Homo sapiens: one gene and its partners. The protein of the gene in region 4 purifies or fractionates together with the protein of the main gene of each other region. This does not show direct contact. Each region holds a gene or a part of one and is shown on either strand. Other genes may lie near its edges.

Region 1 (3,500 bases), 9.8 Mb from region 4:
CACCATGTAATCGAGAGAAAATTCAGAAGCTAACAAAAGGTGCCGTTTCCCTGAGCAGCATTTCAGTGAAGGTTGGCTCAGTCACAAAAAATAGTTTCAATTTTCAGCAGAAAACAAATTACCTTCAAGGTCTCTCGCTCTTTCTGAGTCTTTTGGTTATACCAAGGTTCATCATTGTATGGGGTACTTTGCCAAACATACTTTAGAGTAGTGCATACTGCAGCTTTGGTCAGTAAGATAAATAAATATACAATCAGGAAAGCATTAATAGATCTGAAAAATAAGATAGCATGGATTTTAAAACCAAAGACATCAGTCAGATATGAATTAAACTACTGAGTCATCTAAAGCTTTTTCTGTGTACGACGCGTAACTACAGCACAAGCCTTTGTGTATTAACCTCAGTTATCATAGCTGCAGCATTACTTTCAAGTGGCAAAATGGAAAAGCTGGCCATGAACTGTTTATTGACCACCAATGCTCCCCCAAGTGCAATGGCTGACTAGCTGAACACACCTTATTAAGGTTCCTGTAAAGTGACAGGAGAGGTACACACATGCACACATACACACACCATTACTTACTCAACCCTTATAGAAAGAGTATCTTGTCTCCATTTCCCTGAATCCTAAATGTTTGGGGTAGAGGGCACGGTAGCAATGTGAAATCCTCAAGCTCGGTGTAGGTTCTTTCAGTTTAAAAGTGGAGCTATGGAAAGGGTGCCAGTGATATACTGGTTATCCATGCCAAATACAGGGTGAGGTCTATAGCAGTGGCAACTGGCTTGAGGATCTACGAGGCACTGCTTCAATAGGTGCCAGGAGACTATTATCTATATTATAGAACCAACTTGCATATAGCAACTAAAGGACTCCAAACCATTAACTCCACTAGCAAAAAGGAATGAATTTACAGTTCAAGTAAACTCTGCCCTTTAATAGCTATGTGAGCTTAGGTAAGTCACATACCATCTCCAAGACCATTTCCTCATCTGTAAAGTGGAGAGGTTAACATGAATTACTTCACAGTGTTCTTCAGAGGACTAAACCAAATCAGACATACAAATCATTGAGCACAGTTTCTGGTACATAAACAAGTGCTTAAAATTGTAGTTGCTATTATAATTGATGTTGTTTTTTGTTATGCTTGTTACTTGGAATTACCAAGAAAGTAACTATTTTAATCAATAATGACTAAATAAATTGTGGCGCATACTAACTTTTCAACAGCAGAACGTTTCTGAGATTTCCCTTGGTAGTTCAAAGCCATTTTGGTTTCCATTCCAGTGTAAACAGCAACTCCTAAGAAATTACAGAATATAATAAAAACTAAGAACTTGTCAACCAACTCCTCACCCAGCTGGCTCTATGAATTTTTAAGTCTATAAAAGTGGGAAATCTAGGCCCTCTTCCACTCACCAGTTGTATATCATTTATAGGATAATTTTAATTATATATAGTATTTGTCATATTTCGTCTTAGTTTACCACGTTATAAATTCCCAACACCTAAATGTAGGTTTAAATTAAATGGCAAACCTGCCATGTTTACTTTTTAATATGCACTATTTATTCACAGCCTTTACAAAGCATATTTTTTGATAGGTGTATCTTAAAAATTGTTCACCATATATCTTCTCGGTATTTTTTAGCGTAGCTCCTTTCAGCAAGAGATTTTCAGGTCCCAAAGACCTAAATAAAAAATGAACACAGCTTATCCAAACAAGCCAATAGCATCAACAACTCTGGGGACAGATTTTGCCCTGACACACACCTATCTCCAAGGGGTTCAGAATGTTATCTGTCTACTTATACCATATGCTTACTCCCCAGGACAAGCTGAAAGGTCCTTCACTCTGAAGTTACTTGAGGGTACAGCACAGATGGAAGCACAGTACGGGAGTAGCCAGCAACACACATAGGCAAAAAAAATACATGGGGGGGGATAAAAGGATTATGAATCATGGATAGCAAGACGAGAACAGAACAGAGCAGCAGATCGCAAGACACAAAAGCAGACAGCCATCAATAAAAGACAGGGAATGCAAACGTCAAGGTGGGAAAAATATACTGACATATTTGGAGAGAATAAACCCTCCTTTTGGGGGATCACTGGGGACCCTGTATTTCTTTAACTTTTTGAGTGTGGCTGTAAAGGCCAAGTGGAAAAGTTGCGGTAATTAATATGATGATAGAAGAGGAAAGAAAGCATCCCTTTTTGTATGAACTGCTTGATAAATTGTATGAAGGCTGATACATACAATTCGTATACATAAAACAATTCGTTTTAATGAAGCCTTTCATTTTACGTAAGTCCAGGTAGTTCTTCCAGCATTTTACCCACTGCTTACTTTCTCAATTACTCTCCCACTGTTCTCCAGTTATAATTCCAATGTTGTCAGCCACTTCACAACCGAGGATAATAAATAACATGGCTAGAACAGGTTTGGGAATATAATCCAAAATGTCTGGAGCTCTGCTATTTTGGAAACCATAAGCATTACTTCTAACAGCCCCCTCCCCACAACACAGAGACCCTATCACCACAACTCTACCAATCACAAGGTTAGTTGCTTATTCACCTTTATATTCCTTTTTTTTTTTTTTTTTTTTTTTTTGAGATGGAGTCTTGCTCTTGTTGCCCAGGGTACAGTGCAATGGCTCAATCTTGGCTCACTGCGACCTTCGCCTCCCGGGTTCAAGAGATTCTCCTGCCTCAGCCTCCTGAGTAGTTGGGATTACAGATGTGTGCCACCACGCCCAGCTAAATTTGTATTTTTAATAGAGATTGGGTTTCACCCCGTTGGCCAGGCTGGCTTCAAACTCCTGACCTCAGGTGATCCACCCACCTCAGCCTCCCAAAGTGCTGGGATTACAGGCGTGAGCTACCGCACCCGGCCTATATTCCTTTCTATAATAGAAAGGTATTTGGCTATTTTAGTTGATTTAACAGAAAAATAGACCCCCCCCCCCAACCAAAGGACAAATTAAAGAAACAGCAAACTTACCTGGCAACAGCCTCAAGACTATTACTGTAGATATTGATTCGCCCAACAAATCTGTAAAAAGAACAAAATTGCAAATGTGTTTTCTACATCCAGGTGAAATCCATGTACCAGAAATATGAGAATGAATGAAAATACAAATAATAAAACAGAGATAGATAAAACTGTGAATGAACTACAAAAGCCTATTATATTTCTGGGGGAAAAAAAGTTATGTTGAATTGATAAGGTGTATAACATTTTCATATAATTTTTAAATAACATGATGGGATTATAGGAGCAGAAACAAAGGTTCTCAATTGATTTTCAAGTTCTGTTTAACATCATGCATGCACACAACACCTCTCTCTTTTATAAGTTTATATAAATAACGTAACTTCTATCTTGGATCATGTGAAGAAAGGTTTCTGGTGCTAAAATACAATTTTCAAAACCGCTAGTTCAGTAGTTCTTACACTTGAGTGTGCATCAGAATCACTGGAGCGCTAATTAAACCA
Region 2 (4,287 bases), on a different chromosome or scaffold from region 4:
GATGTTACGGATGGGGGAAACTGAGCTTCCCCTAAAGGGGTCAGCGGGTACTAAGGACAGAGCTGAGCTGAAAATAAGTTCTTGGCTGGGCGCGGTGGCTCACGTCTGTAATCCCAGCACTTTGGGAAGCCAAGGCGGGTGGATCACCTGAGGTCAGGAGTTTGAGACCAGCCTGGCCAACGTGGTGAAACCCCAACTCTACTGAAAATACAAAAATTAGTCGGGCATGGTGGTGGGTGCCTGTAATCCCAGCTACTTGGGAGGTTGAGGCAGGAGAATCACTTGAACCCAGGAGGTGGAGGTTGCAGTGAGCCCAGGTTGTGCCAGTGTGGGCGACGGAGCGAGACTCAGTCTAAAAAAAAAAGAAAAAAGAGTTCTTGGCCAATTTGGAATCCTGGGCCCTCACCCTCAGATGGTCCAATGAGCCTTCCTGCACTTCACTCAGGCACACCCCGGCCCCACTTCACAGTTTGTATTTTATATATCTCCCACACTAATTATTCAATTTTTAAAATTTAATTTATAAAGAAACTCTATATCCCATTGTAAATGAAAAAAAGCAGTATCACTTGCCATAAATAGAGAGTAACAAAAATAAACACAACAAGCTGTACAATGGTATTAAAGCCTAGCTGGAGACTATTGTCTCCTCAAGCTCTGGGCTTCCTGCCTTCCCTTTCCGTTGATAAGGAAGCTTAGCAAATGTTAGAGAGACGTGAAAGACACAGTAGTACCAAACCAAGACTTGCTCCTGGGTGCAGTTCATAGAATTGAAAGGCCACTGCAAACCAGTCCTCTTCCGGGGTGACTTGATGACTTGATGGTGCTCAGTGCTGTGTTTGGGATGTGACTCAAATCCACTTATTTGTCAGCAGAGTCCCACACTCCTGGAAGCCCTGGCCCAGACGACCTGCTTTAGCTCCCGCAAGGTGTCTCAGATTGTCGTGTTGAGTAGGGAATGGAGGGGGTCACAGGTGCCCATGCCCAGGTGCAGCAGAGAGGGGGAGACCGGTCCCAGAGCAGCCCATCAGCCAGATGAGTCCCCCTGCGCCAGCCGTGGGCCTGTCGGGAATGCAGCTGACTGGGCCACTGCCACGTCAGGCACATTATCTGCAACAACTCCCACTTTGCAGATGAAGAAACTGAGGCACTACGAGTCAAGTCAGTTGCCTAGAGTCCCACAGTATAGCAACTGGCAAGGCCAGGCCCAGAGTCCAGGGCTCTCAGAGGCCCCAAGGGGGAGTCTAAGATAACACACAGGGCAGGAGGGGAGAGCAGTTTGTACTTCCTGCTGTGACCAGGTCAGAGTTTAGAGCATGAGAGGCCTGCAGGGGTGGGGTGCTGAGAGCAGGACGCATAGTGAGTTGTCTGGGACTTGGCTGCAGCTGGGTAAGATGCACTGCCTTCCTCCAGGACTCGGAGGGTTTGGGATGAAGGAGGGAGGGAGAAGGGGTGCCAGAGCCTCGACCTTGCTGAGTGCCCCGTTGGCCCCCTCCCTGCAGCAGTACTTCATCCTCCTCATCATCACGGACGGGGTCATCAGTGACATGGAGGAGACACGGCATGCCGTGGTGCAGGCTTCCAAGCTGCCCATGTCCATCATCATCGTGGGCGTGGGCAATGCGGACTTCGCTGCCATGGAGTTCCTGGATGGGGACAGCCGCATGCTGCGCTCCCACACGGGGGAGGAGGCAGCCCGCGATATTGTGCAGTTCGTTCCCTTTCGAGAGTTCCGCAACGTGAGTGTGGGCCTGGGCTGGGAGGGGGCGGTTACAGGATCCCAGCCACCATAGCTCATAATCAAGCTTGAGAGTCTTGGGGTTGTCTGGCCCAATCCTAGACTTCTCCACTCCATTGACTATGCTCTTCTGAGGGCCTGCCATGTGCCAGGCGCCGTGCCAGGCCTTGCCCCGGTGGTGGCCATTGTGATAGTGTGAGCACTTGCTTCCACAAACTGATGGAACATGGAGCCGTGGGCATCTAGCCTGAGGCTCTGGGGCAGGGCTTCCTGGAGGACCTGCCCTCTAGTGGGGTCTGATGAGAGGCTGGGGCTATCCATGTGGTGTAAAGTGCAGGAGGAGAGAGGGGTTTTCCTGATCATCACGCCCCAGCAAGCCCCCTCATTTTGTAGACGGAAAACAAGGCCTCCCAGTCATCTTAGGTTGACCTCCTCTCCCTAAAGCCCTCTGCCTGGGAGAATGGTGTCCCCAGCCTTGTTCCTGGAAGTGGCTCTGGCTTTATTTGCAGGTGATCCCAGATCTGCCCACAAGGAGGCCGGGGTTGGCCTCCTGATCACTGCCCTAGCAGCAGGGTCCATGAGGAGTCCCATAGGGGAGCAGTCTCTCCACTGTACCGCTGTACTGTAATGCCACCCCCATACTGCTGGCTGGGGGCTTAACCCAGCCTCAGCAAGAACTGCCCATGCTGGTTTGCACCCAGTGGCCCTCACCTCTCTTCCCAGCATCCTCTGGGGTTGCCTGCGATGGTTCTACTCCTTCCTCTGGAGCATTCGCTTCCTAAGGACAAACCCTGGGCATCGGTCACCCCTTCATGCACAGGTCGGTGACCGAGTACCTCCATGTGCCTGGCCTGTGGCTGGCTGTTCACTAGTGAACCATACTGTCAGGCCCATTTATTCCCGCCAAGAAGGTGCTCAGGAGATGTTTGCCGGACACATAGGTGCTTCCCGCAGACGGAGTCATCCTAACCCGTTACTCCCAAGCATCTCAAGTGCTCCAGGTAACACTTACACCTAACCTAAAGGAAGGCACTGCGATCAGGGGGAATTTCAGGCCTGGCCTGGGCTGAGATGAGGGATGCCACTTGCAGACAGCCCTGGCCCGCAGCCCTAATTTTGTCCTCAATGGACACCTGCTGTAGCAGCCCTCTGGGCATAGTGCCGCTCACAACTTCCGGTCATTAATCCTTATTCTCTCTCTTCCCCACCCCACCCTCCTCCACCCTGCAGGCAGCAAAAGAGACCTTGGCCAAAGCTGTGCTGGCGGAGCTGCCCCAACAAGTTGTGCAGTATTTCAAGCATAAAAACCTGCCCCCCACCAACTCGGAGCCCGCCTGAGCTCCAGTGCCCAGCAGCAGCATGTCAGCTGAGCCTCCTGCCCTCCCCCAGGAACATGCACGCTCACTCTGCTTCCTTGTGGGTGGCCTTTTTTTACCGATCCCCTTTTTTATTTTTTACAACCGGACCTCCACCCCCAACTTCCTCCAGCCCAGCTGGGCTTCCTTTGTTGGAGTCAACTGTTGATGCTTCCAGGCCAAACTGGCTTCCTCTCCTCCTCTCCCCACCTTTGCCATTCTTAAGTATTGAATGTACTTTGTATAATTTTAGTGGAATTGTTATTGAGAATAAAATTTTTACAATCATAACTGGCTTTTTCCAAGTAACTAGCTGCAGACTCTGATGAAAGAAACATGTCCTTGGTGCATACGTGTCGTAGCCTGCACCTAATTAATTCCTGCTGTTTTTTTAATACTGTGACTGTGTTCTATTTGTTATATGCTCAGGGTAACAAATGAGTTTCAGACGTCCCTGCGTCAGCTCCTTCCTCAGCAGGGACCTGACGGGCTCACTGATCTAAGAAAGGAAATGGAAAATGAAAATCCACCCCACAAGTCTAATAAGTTGGTGTAGTCACTTCTGCATGGGGACATGCATTCCAGATGATAACCTGTTAAATCACTGCCAGTTAACAGTGATAACCTGTTAAACTGGCACAGAACCTGGCACATTGTACAAACTCAATAAATATTCATGGATGAATAGAATGAATGTGCAGGCCCATACCAGTTTCTGACATATCCCTACCCCACAACTGGACAGCAGTCCCAGCCACCCATCTGCTCCTCCTTGGGTCTCCCGGGTGTTTGGGTTGGCCACCTAGAGGTCTGTGAAAGCCTCTCTGGCCTCAGGACCCAAAATGGGGCTGCTTCTGACCCTGCTGTTTCTTCCACATCCCCCTCTCTAGGCTCAGGCCCAGTTTTATGAAACCAGCCAGAGGACCCCTCTCTGAAAGTTCAGCCCCGCTCCCAGGTCCCTCCTTTATTCCACATAACACCTCTTTCTCCTTTATCCACCTGACTCCCGCTTGGACCTCCAGGTAAGCCCCCTGGACACGGGCTTCCGTGTAACCAGTAACAGCTAACCCTCCTATTAAGCACTTTGTTTCCAGCTCCGTGTTCAGTATTTTGCAGGCACTTTTTCTGAGACAGGGTCTCACTCTGTCCCACCCAGGCTGGAGTGCAGTGGTGTGATCTCGGCTCACTGCAGCC
Region 3 (2,769 bases), on a different chromosome or scaffold from region 4:
AACAACCCACTTAATTGACTAAAAAAAGAGTCTAGCTCATTGCTTTCCTGATTCTCCTCAGCATCTGGCAGTTGTAGTGTTCCTGTGTTCAAGCTTTACTTGAACTTTACAGAGCTTCCTGTGTCACCTCTGGTTGGAGCGGAGGGGCTGTAAAGGTGTCTCTCATCTAGCACATGCAACTTAGCATGCTCTCTTGAACATCTTATCTCAGGACTAGCTTACGCAGCTCTTGAAAAGCAGAGTATTCCATGTTGTTAAATCTATGTATTGAGAAGATGAGATAAACCCTGGTAAATTATGTAGTTTATGAAAACTCCATTGACCTGGCCTTTGCATTCAAATTCTTTAACTTGGCCCATAGCTTCTTTCTCCTTAGCACTTCTGGTCCTCCAGCACCATTCTGACAAACTTTATGAAAGCCAAATCAAGATAAATAGAACCTCAGTGCTGATCATCATTAATGTTTAATGCATACCCAGATGGCATGACAGCAGCCAGCGTGGCCTTTTTGTTGAAGTTAATTGACATAAAAAGTAAATAAAACCCTATTCTTCCTAACAGGCCCAGTTCTGGTGATGATTTCACTTTTGACAGAAGCTGTCCCTCAAAAGCAAACATGCAATAGAAGAAACAGATCTCAGTAAGTAGCTTATTTTCCTTACAAACACTACTGAAATTTCTTATTAATGCTCCTAATTTTCCCATTATGCACTGCAGCGTGAGTATGGCTCCAGAGGCTGCACCTAATAACTTCCTTGAGCTCTAATGATTATTGGTATCTTTTACTAATGTGTATCTGTTCTAAACTACACAAAAGCATACAAAGCCATCTCCCTCTTTTAAAAACTTGAAAATGTGGGTATCACCTTTAATTAAATATTTTAAATTTCTCTCTCCAAATCAGATTTATCTATGTGTGGGAGTTTAGATAGTCCCAAGACTTTTGCTAAGACAGTATTTCCAATTTAATCTTAAGTAGAAAAATGTATGTAATTAAGAGATTTATTATAAAACATTTGGCAAAGAAGGAAAGAAAACAGTAACTATGTAGGTAGTTTTTATTAGATTGCTATAGGAGTAATAGGGAATTTTTAGAGGACTAGTTTCAAAATTACACACCTGCAGAAGTTTTCATTCTTCTACCTACTGTGAGGTATGGTATTACAAACTAAGAAGCATTAATGGAGAATAACTAAAGGGTCTCATAACTGAGTTGTATATAATATTGCTATCTTGCTATTGTTAAAGATAGCCCTGATTTTAGGATGTAGCTATTTTAGAGAGTCAAAATGGAAATAACACATTGTCCACATAGCTACTGTGAAAGCTGTAATACAGAGTTATCCTTTATTTTGACACATTTTTAAAAAACTGTGAATATAACTTTGTAACTAATAAGGGATGTTCACATGAAGCAGTTCTTAAGCCTTCTAACTTCTTAAGGGATCTCTTAACCAGCATAAATGGAACTGTTTCAAGGCCATGACATTAACAGACCTTTTTAGGTCCCAGTAGCCTGCTAGTCTGTAAAAGAAAACAATGCTATCCACTCCATTAAAATACAGAAGGCATACAGTATTGAACAGTGCCTAAAATAAAAAGGAGAGGAGGACTGAAGAAAAGTACAGCATTGCCTGCTAGTAGAATGCAACCACTTCAGCAATAATAATAATAAAAGCAATATTCACTGTCATAACAAAGACCTTCACTGTATTGAACTAAAAAAAAGTAGCATGTATGTCGTCATGGAATGTCACATCAGGGTTTGCTGTTGTATAAGATTATAGGCAGTAACACTGATCATATAGTGCAAACTAGGTAAAATTGCGTTTCACTGTGTGAAATGAACAGAGGTGCAAATGCTCAGTAGGATACCATTAAGACATAAAATGGCAAAAAATAAATATCAAAACTTTTATCAGTGTAAAAAAGTAACTGGGTTATTGTATAACCTAGAGTCTGGCAAAAAAGGCCTCAAAAAAGTTCTCAGTCTTCAGAAGTTTACAAATTAAGTGCCCTTTCAGGATTCCAGTCACACTAGGGACTCCATGCTCTCAGCAGGGTCTGATTCATCTGCAATAAGAACAGCACCATTTTTGTCTACTGTCATGGGACCATTTCCATTTTCTTTAGTGCTGACCAAGCTAAGCATTGCTTTATAGATGAACTGGTATTGTTCCTGAAAAACAAGAGGAAGACAGTTTGAGCCAAAGAACAGTTTAGTGATTTCACATAAGGTGGAAATACCAATTAAAATGGTAATTGTGAAAAACACACTAGAGAAACAGCAATAGCATAAATGTTATCTAAAAAAACTAAAAAAAAAATCATTTGAATTTATTATAGTCAAGACCTATACCTTCTTCATGTCCTTTTGATCTCTGTTAGCTTGGAACCAATTCTCAGTGCTGATTGTTAATGAACAATCATTATTGGTTAATGAAGATAACCAATATCTGGTTAATATCTGGTTAATGAAGATAACCAGAGAATACTATCCTCTAAAGCAGGGCTTCTCAACCTGAGCACTACTGACATTTTGGGCCACATAATTCTATGGTGTTGAGGGCTGTCTTGTGCTGTGTAGTTTGCTTAGCAGCATCTCTGGCTTGTATCCTCTAGATGCCATCCATCTGCAGTTGTGACAAGCAAAAAAGTCTCCAGACATGGCCAAATGTCCCCTGGGGGGCAAAATCACCCCCAATTGAGAACTACTGCTCTAAACTGTGAGTCTGAGTTTCAACTGATGTAGTACAGGTTTTACACATA
Region 4 (5,495 bases):
GTGGACCATCAGATACTCTCCCTCCACGGCTCACTCCTACCTACCACTATACCCATGCTGTGGCCTTTCCACCAGCATGAAAATCAGGGAATAGCTCCCCTTGTTCAAGGCCAAACCCTTCCTGGTGCTCTAGGTCCCATTCTCCCTGAGTCCCACAGGGCCTTGCTCCATCACCGTCCCTCTGTCTACATACCTTCCCCTCACGCCCATACCTGGGGTCTAGGCTTATATGCCTGACCCACCCTACAGCTGCTATGTTTACTTCCTAAGCCAACTGCAGTCTTCTCCCTTCACTCTTCATCCACACGGCTCAAAACCAGGCATCTACAGCCTCTAGTTCTCCCCTCAACCCATCAGTATTCAGCTTTGGGCCCTCAGCTTCTATGCAGTTATGTAGTTATGTGCCCGGGCTTTAGAGTCGGGCTGACTCAAACGGAATCCTGGTCCTGCCCCTTCACATGTGGCCATGAACAAATGACTTATCTTCTCTGGACCTACCTCACAGAGTTAGTTAGTAAGAAAACTACCACATGTAATGTGCCTCGCACAATGCCTGGCACACAGTAAGTGCTCAATAAACGTTATCTGCAATTACTTTCATTACTATTATTACTAGTCCTGGTATTTTATTCATCTGCATATCCTCTATGCTTAGGGAAAAAGGGCTTGGCATCTAGTAAATACTTGATAAATGTTTATTGAATGAATAAACAAACACAGGGGCACATCAGGATAAGCTAACCAGACAGCAGGGGAGGTGCTAAATCATGGGGTCTGAGGTGGGGAGATGGTCAGTTTTGAGTGTCAACTTGGCTGGGCTATAGTACCCAGTTATTTAATCAAACACTAAGCTTGCTGTTGCAGTGAAGGTACTGACTTTGAATAAAGGAGACTACCCTCCATAGCATGGGTGGGCCTCATGCAATCAGGTGAAGGCCTTAAAAGCAAAAACTGTGGTTTCCTGGAGAGGAAAAAATTCTGTGCCAGGACTGCAGTGTCAACTCCTCCTAGGTCTCCAGCCTGTTCACCTGCCCTGGAGATTTCAGACTTGCCAGCCCCACAGTAATGTGAGCCAGTTCCTTAACTCTCTTTATACATATATCTGTATCTAACCTATCAGTTCTGTTTCTGTCTGATTGATACAGGATGTGAAGCTGGGAGAAGGCTGATGTCCTGGGTGAAAAGCTAGTGTTCTAAGTGAAGAAAGAAAAATTGTTATTTCCATCATCTTTTGTTGCCTTGTTGTCTCATGATGTAGAGTTGGTAATGATCAAGCTCTTCCTAACAAAGGGTAAGAAATTGACATCTGAATAACTGAGCAAAATATTTTACTTTTGAAAACATTCTTTTTTTTTTTTTTTAAGACGGAGTTTCATTCTGTCACCCAGGCTGGAGTGCAATGGTTCAATCTTGGCTCACTGCAACCTCCGCCTCCTGGGTTCAAGAGATTCTCCCGCCTCAGCCTCCGGAGAAGCTGGGATTACTGGCGCATGCCACCACACCCGGCTAATTTTTGTATTATTAGTAGAGATGGGGTTTCACCATGTTGGCCAGGCTGGTCTCAAACTCCTGACCTCAAGTGATCCACCTGCCTTGACCTCCCAAAGTGGAAAACATTCTTAAATATATGAAATCTCACCTCTAGTGACCTGTCATGTCGAAAGCCCCAAACGCAAGCTGCAACAGACACCGGGGAAACAAAGAACAGCGGCATGAAGACCAGGAGCCAGAAATGGCTTCCTCTCTCGATTCTGTCACAGACCAGAACTTCAAACATCAACAAGAGCAAGTGGATGCCCACTGCAATCAACATGGCTTTAAACTCCACACACGTTTCTCCTTCTGCTCTAAAAAAGGGAGAGAAGAAGAAAACACCCTCAGTTCAGAATCTCCACTATAAGCAAGCAGTTCAGGGCAAATACCAACTTATATTTATACTTTGAATTTTACTTGAAAATTTGACAAAAGCAAAGGGAAATCAGGTAGAAAGCTAACTTAAACCTAAGCTTTGGTAGGCAATCTCTGAAACATCGAAGAACTACTACATAATACAAAATGAACATTACAACCAAACCAGAATTTAATGTTTTAACCGTATAAGGATATTCTCAAAAGTAATAGCCAGTTCTTATTTCCCTGACAATGTACATAAACACTTCTGTTCACATCTTTAAATTCAACAACAAGAGTTACTTCCAAGATTATTCAAGCTGATTTGCTTCTGCTGCTAAAACCAGGCAAATACCCCTTAAGTCTCATGATCCTCATTTTTCAAGAAACCATGTAAACCACCCTTCACACAATATTATAAAAATAACTCTAGTTCTATGAACAAGTGCCAGTTATATTTCAAGATAGTAGTAACTATTGTTAGGTGCTATTTTTAAATGCAAATAAAACGTATAAATGATTTTCATTTTCCTTTCTATTCCATTAAGATAAATTAACACCTGCACATGAAAGAGAAAGAAGAACAAGAGTTAAAACTGTTCTCAAACAAAATCAGTTTAATTAGCTAAGTATCATGCACAATAACCTTAACAGATCTACAATTGAGCAATGGTAAGGCCGCTAATCAGGAAAAGGCTCTATAATGCATCTGAAAGGCCTACAATGTTTATTCAAAATACAGATGAACATTTATGATATACATGTATTGTGGGTGACAAATACACCGGAAGTTAGATCATAGAGAAAATGCTATCAGAGGTTATTCCTGTAGGACCCAACCATGTTCCACTGGTTAATGTTAACATGAGAATGACCACGCCTGTACATTCCTTACATTCAACCCCACATACACAATTCCTTTCCTTGCTCAAAACATCTTAAATAAGACCAACAAAGAGAAGTTTGAATATATTCTAAATATCAATTAGTAGAACCTAAATGTTTATTTAACTTTGCATTCTTTGAGAAGCAATTAATATTAGATATCTGAAAATATCTCATAAAAAAATAAAACACATACAGCCACACAGGTCATCAATCTTTCAAAAAAAATCTAAGAACTCTGAAACAGCTATACATGAATGTCCCTCACCTGCCAAGGCTCTCTGTGTAACTGTTTTACAGTTCTTAGACATGTATGTGATATGTAATTTACACAATCTGAATCATTTTCATATTTAGTAAACAAAAATTTAAAAAGTTGATGTAGTGGCCGGACGTGGTGGCTCACACCTGTAATCCCAGCACTTCAGGAGGCCAAGGCGGGTGGATCACCTGATGTCAGGAGTTCAAAACTAGCCTGGCATGGTGAAACCCTATCTCTACTAAAAATACAAAAAATTAGCTGGGCATGGTGGCAGGTGCCTGTAATCCCAGCTACTCAGGAGGCCGAGGCAGGAGAATCACTTGAACCCGGGATGTGGAGGCTGCAGTGGGCCGAGATCACACCATTGCACTCCAGCCTGGGCAACAAGAGCGAAACTCTGTCTCAAAAAAAAAAAAAAAAAAAAAAAAAAAAAAGGTGCGGTAGTTTCAACTTTACACTTTTCCCACATGAGCAGCTGCCTTCTGGGAATTCCTGTACTCCTCATTTTCCCAGTGGAGGTTCATAATAGCCTCCCAGTCTTAAGTCCCCCTTTTTCCCTTTATGTAGTTACAGTCTCTGTGGCAGAGAAGGGAAAGACTCTCGCAGGTCCCAGCAACAAGCAGGTTGCATGCTGGCGTGAGCCAACTCCCAGGAATTTGGGCCAGCGGAGGCATCCAAGAGCAGGGAGGGCAAGAGTTGGAAACGGTAAAGGGTACCCCTCTCCCCTGCCCCCAAAGGCTCTGCTTTCCTTCTCGGCATCCAATCTTTGACTTTCCTCATTCCCCAGCTGCTGTCTCAGGGACTCATGGTCTCCTGGTCAAGCCACCTCCCCTACACTGCTAATAGTCCTAAAGCTCTGGGACTAGGAGGGTGGGACAAGGGGAGCCCCAGTTCCAAAACTGTATTGGAGAAAGATCTTTCATGACCAAACATAATATGAGTGTCTTTTCCTAAAAACAGGGTGGTTTCATGCTGCTTAGTCTAGTATGGCATACCAGTTCTGTATTTTGGGTGCATTTTGGATTATATAGGCATCTGTGAGCTGGCTGGCAACTTACCCCCAAATGGCACTGCTTTTGTAAGAAAATACATACCAAAGACTAAATTTTCAAAAACACAGAAGAGATCTGTTAGCTTATACTATAGTTCTAAGACCCCAGATAGGTAGAAAATAAAATGGTCCTTACTTCATCAAAAGTGAGAAAAGTCAAGATATTGCTCCCTCATGCTAGAGACCAATGGGTTGTATAAAGCAGTATTACCGATATTGAGGATTTCGTGCCCAGACTCCAGTTCCAACTGAGGCTCCAACAATGACCATTAACTTCCACAGCCATATTGGAGCAAAGACAGCCCAGTAACTCCACTGTATGATGCCATCCAAACGAAGGGCCAGCAGCACAGAGAACAGCAGCAGACAGGCATAGATGAGGAATTTACTAGGAGAAAAGTAAAACGATTAAGAAGGATTCACTTTTACAAATATGTGATACTGAAATGGGGAGTAATAAGAGCCACATTTGTCAGCATGTAAAAGGAGTCACTAACTCAATAATCATTTATTGAAAAGGTCTATGGGGCAGACATAATGTGTTGGGAATAAAAGAAACATAAAGAAGACTAAAATAAGTCTCCTGCTTTCCAAGGCTTCCTCATAGAAGGAAGACCACACAGAAACATATAATACAGCACAATGTTTGTGATGAGAGCTTGGAAGAGGAAATACAGACTGTGTCTGAGGAGGCACTCAGAAGCAGAGATGTGGTGACCCTAGAGCTGGTTCCAGAGGGCAAGTAGGAAGCTGCCAGGCAGGAAAGCAAGTGAGATGAGGAAGTATTCCAGGCAGAAGGAACTAGCTATACCAAGACACAGAGACTGGAAAAGGCTGACATGCTCTGAAAATGGTCAAGTTCTATCACTAACTGATTCTATTTCTAAAAAGGCAGCCATCTGTCATATTCATATGGCATGAACATTTTAGTGTATGTATTATACTTTCCATGAATGAATAAATTACACATACACACATGCTCACGTCTCATATAAAAGGGAATTGCTACAGAGGATGTCCTTGAAATAATTAGAAATTATACTCTTGAGGACCTCTATTTCCAGCCTTGACTTAATAATAGGAATATAATTTACCTTCCCGCCTAAATAAGAAGCTTGATACAGTCTACAAAAGAACAGTTTTCAGACATTGACAACAGGCAGTGGAGAACAGGTGAGAAGGAGGAAATAAAGGAGGTAAACCCTACTATTGCCCCAGTTTGCAGATCAGAGGCAGTTTCCAGGCTGCAGCAAGAAAACAGTTAAAACTCAACCCTGTCAATAACTATATTAAATATAAATGGCCAACTGAAAGACAAAGATGATCAGATTGGATAAGTAAGCAAGACAACTATATGCTGTCTGTAAGAATCCCACTTTATCTATCTATAAAGACACAGATAGATTA

What was found. The genes of interacting proteins can lie anywhere in the genome.
Region 1: the proteins of TMEM185A (region 4) and ATP11C purify together in Homo sapiens (affinity purification with mass spectrometry; 3 studies listed by BioGRID and IntAct, with this or other methods). This does not show direct contact.
Region 2: the proteins of TMEM185A (region 4) and CPNE2 purify together in Homo sapiens (affinity purification with mass spectrometry; 3 studies listed by BioGRID and IntAct, with this or other methods). This does not show direct contact.
Region 3: the proteins of TMEM185A (region 4) and PTPRG purify together in Homo sapiens (affinity purification with mass spectrometry; 3 studies listed by BioGRID and IntAct, with this or other methods). This does not show direct contact.

Annotation. Positions count from the first base shown.
Region 1 is NC_000023.11:139,797,054-139,800,553, forward strand, and holds part of ATP11C (phospholipid-transporting ATPase IG), read right to left. Parts: intron 3,058-3,500; coding exon 3,007-3,057; intron 1,691-3,006; coding exon 1,626-1,690; intron 1,302-1,625; coding exon 1,220-1,301; intron 274-1,219; coding exon 123-273; intron 1-122. UniProt on the Homo sapiens protein: Catalytic component of a P4-ATPase flippase complex which catalyzes the hydrolysis of ATP coupled to the transport of aminophospholipids, phosphatidylserines (PS) and phosphatidylethanolamines (PE), from the outer to the inner leaflet of the plasma membrane.
Region 2 is NC_000016.10:57,144,583-57,148,869, forward strand, and holds the end of CPNE2 (copine-2), read left to right. Parts: intron 1-1,502; coding exon 1,503-1,739; intron 1,740-2,968; coding exon 2,969-3,076; 3' UTR 3,077-3,787; downstream 3,788-4,287.
Region 3 is NC_000003.12:62,292,571-62,295,339, reverse strand, and holds part of PTPRG (receptor-type tyrosine-protein phosphatase gamma isoform 1 precursor), read right to left. Parts: intron 2,727-2,769; exon of another isoform or gene 2,623-2,726; intron 2,180-2,622; coding exon 2,033-2,179; 3' UTR 1-2,032.
Region 4 is NC_000023.11:149,606,988-149,612,482, forward strand, and holds part of TMEM185A (transmembrane protein 185A), read right to left. Parts: intron 4,477-5,495; coding exon 4,300-4,476; intron 1,848-4,299; coding exon 1,640-1,847; intron 1-1,639.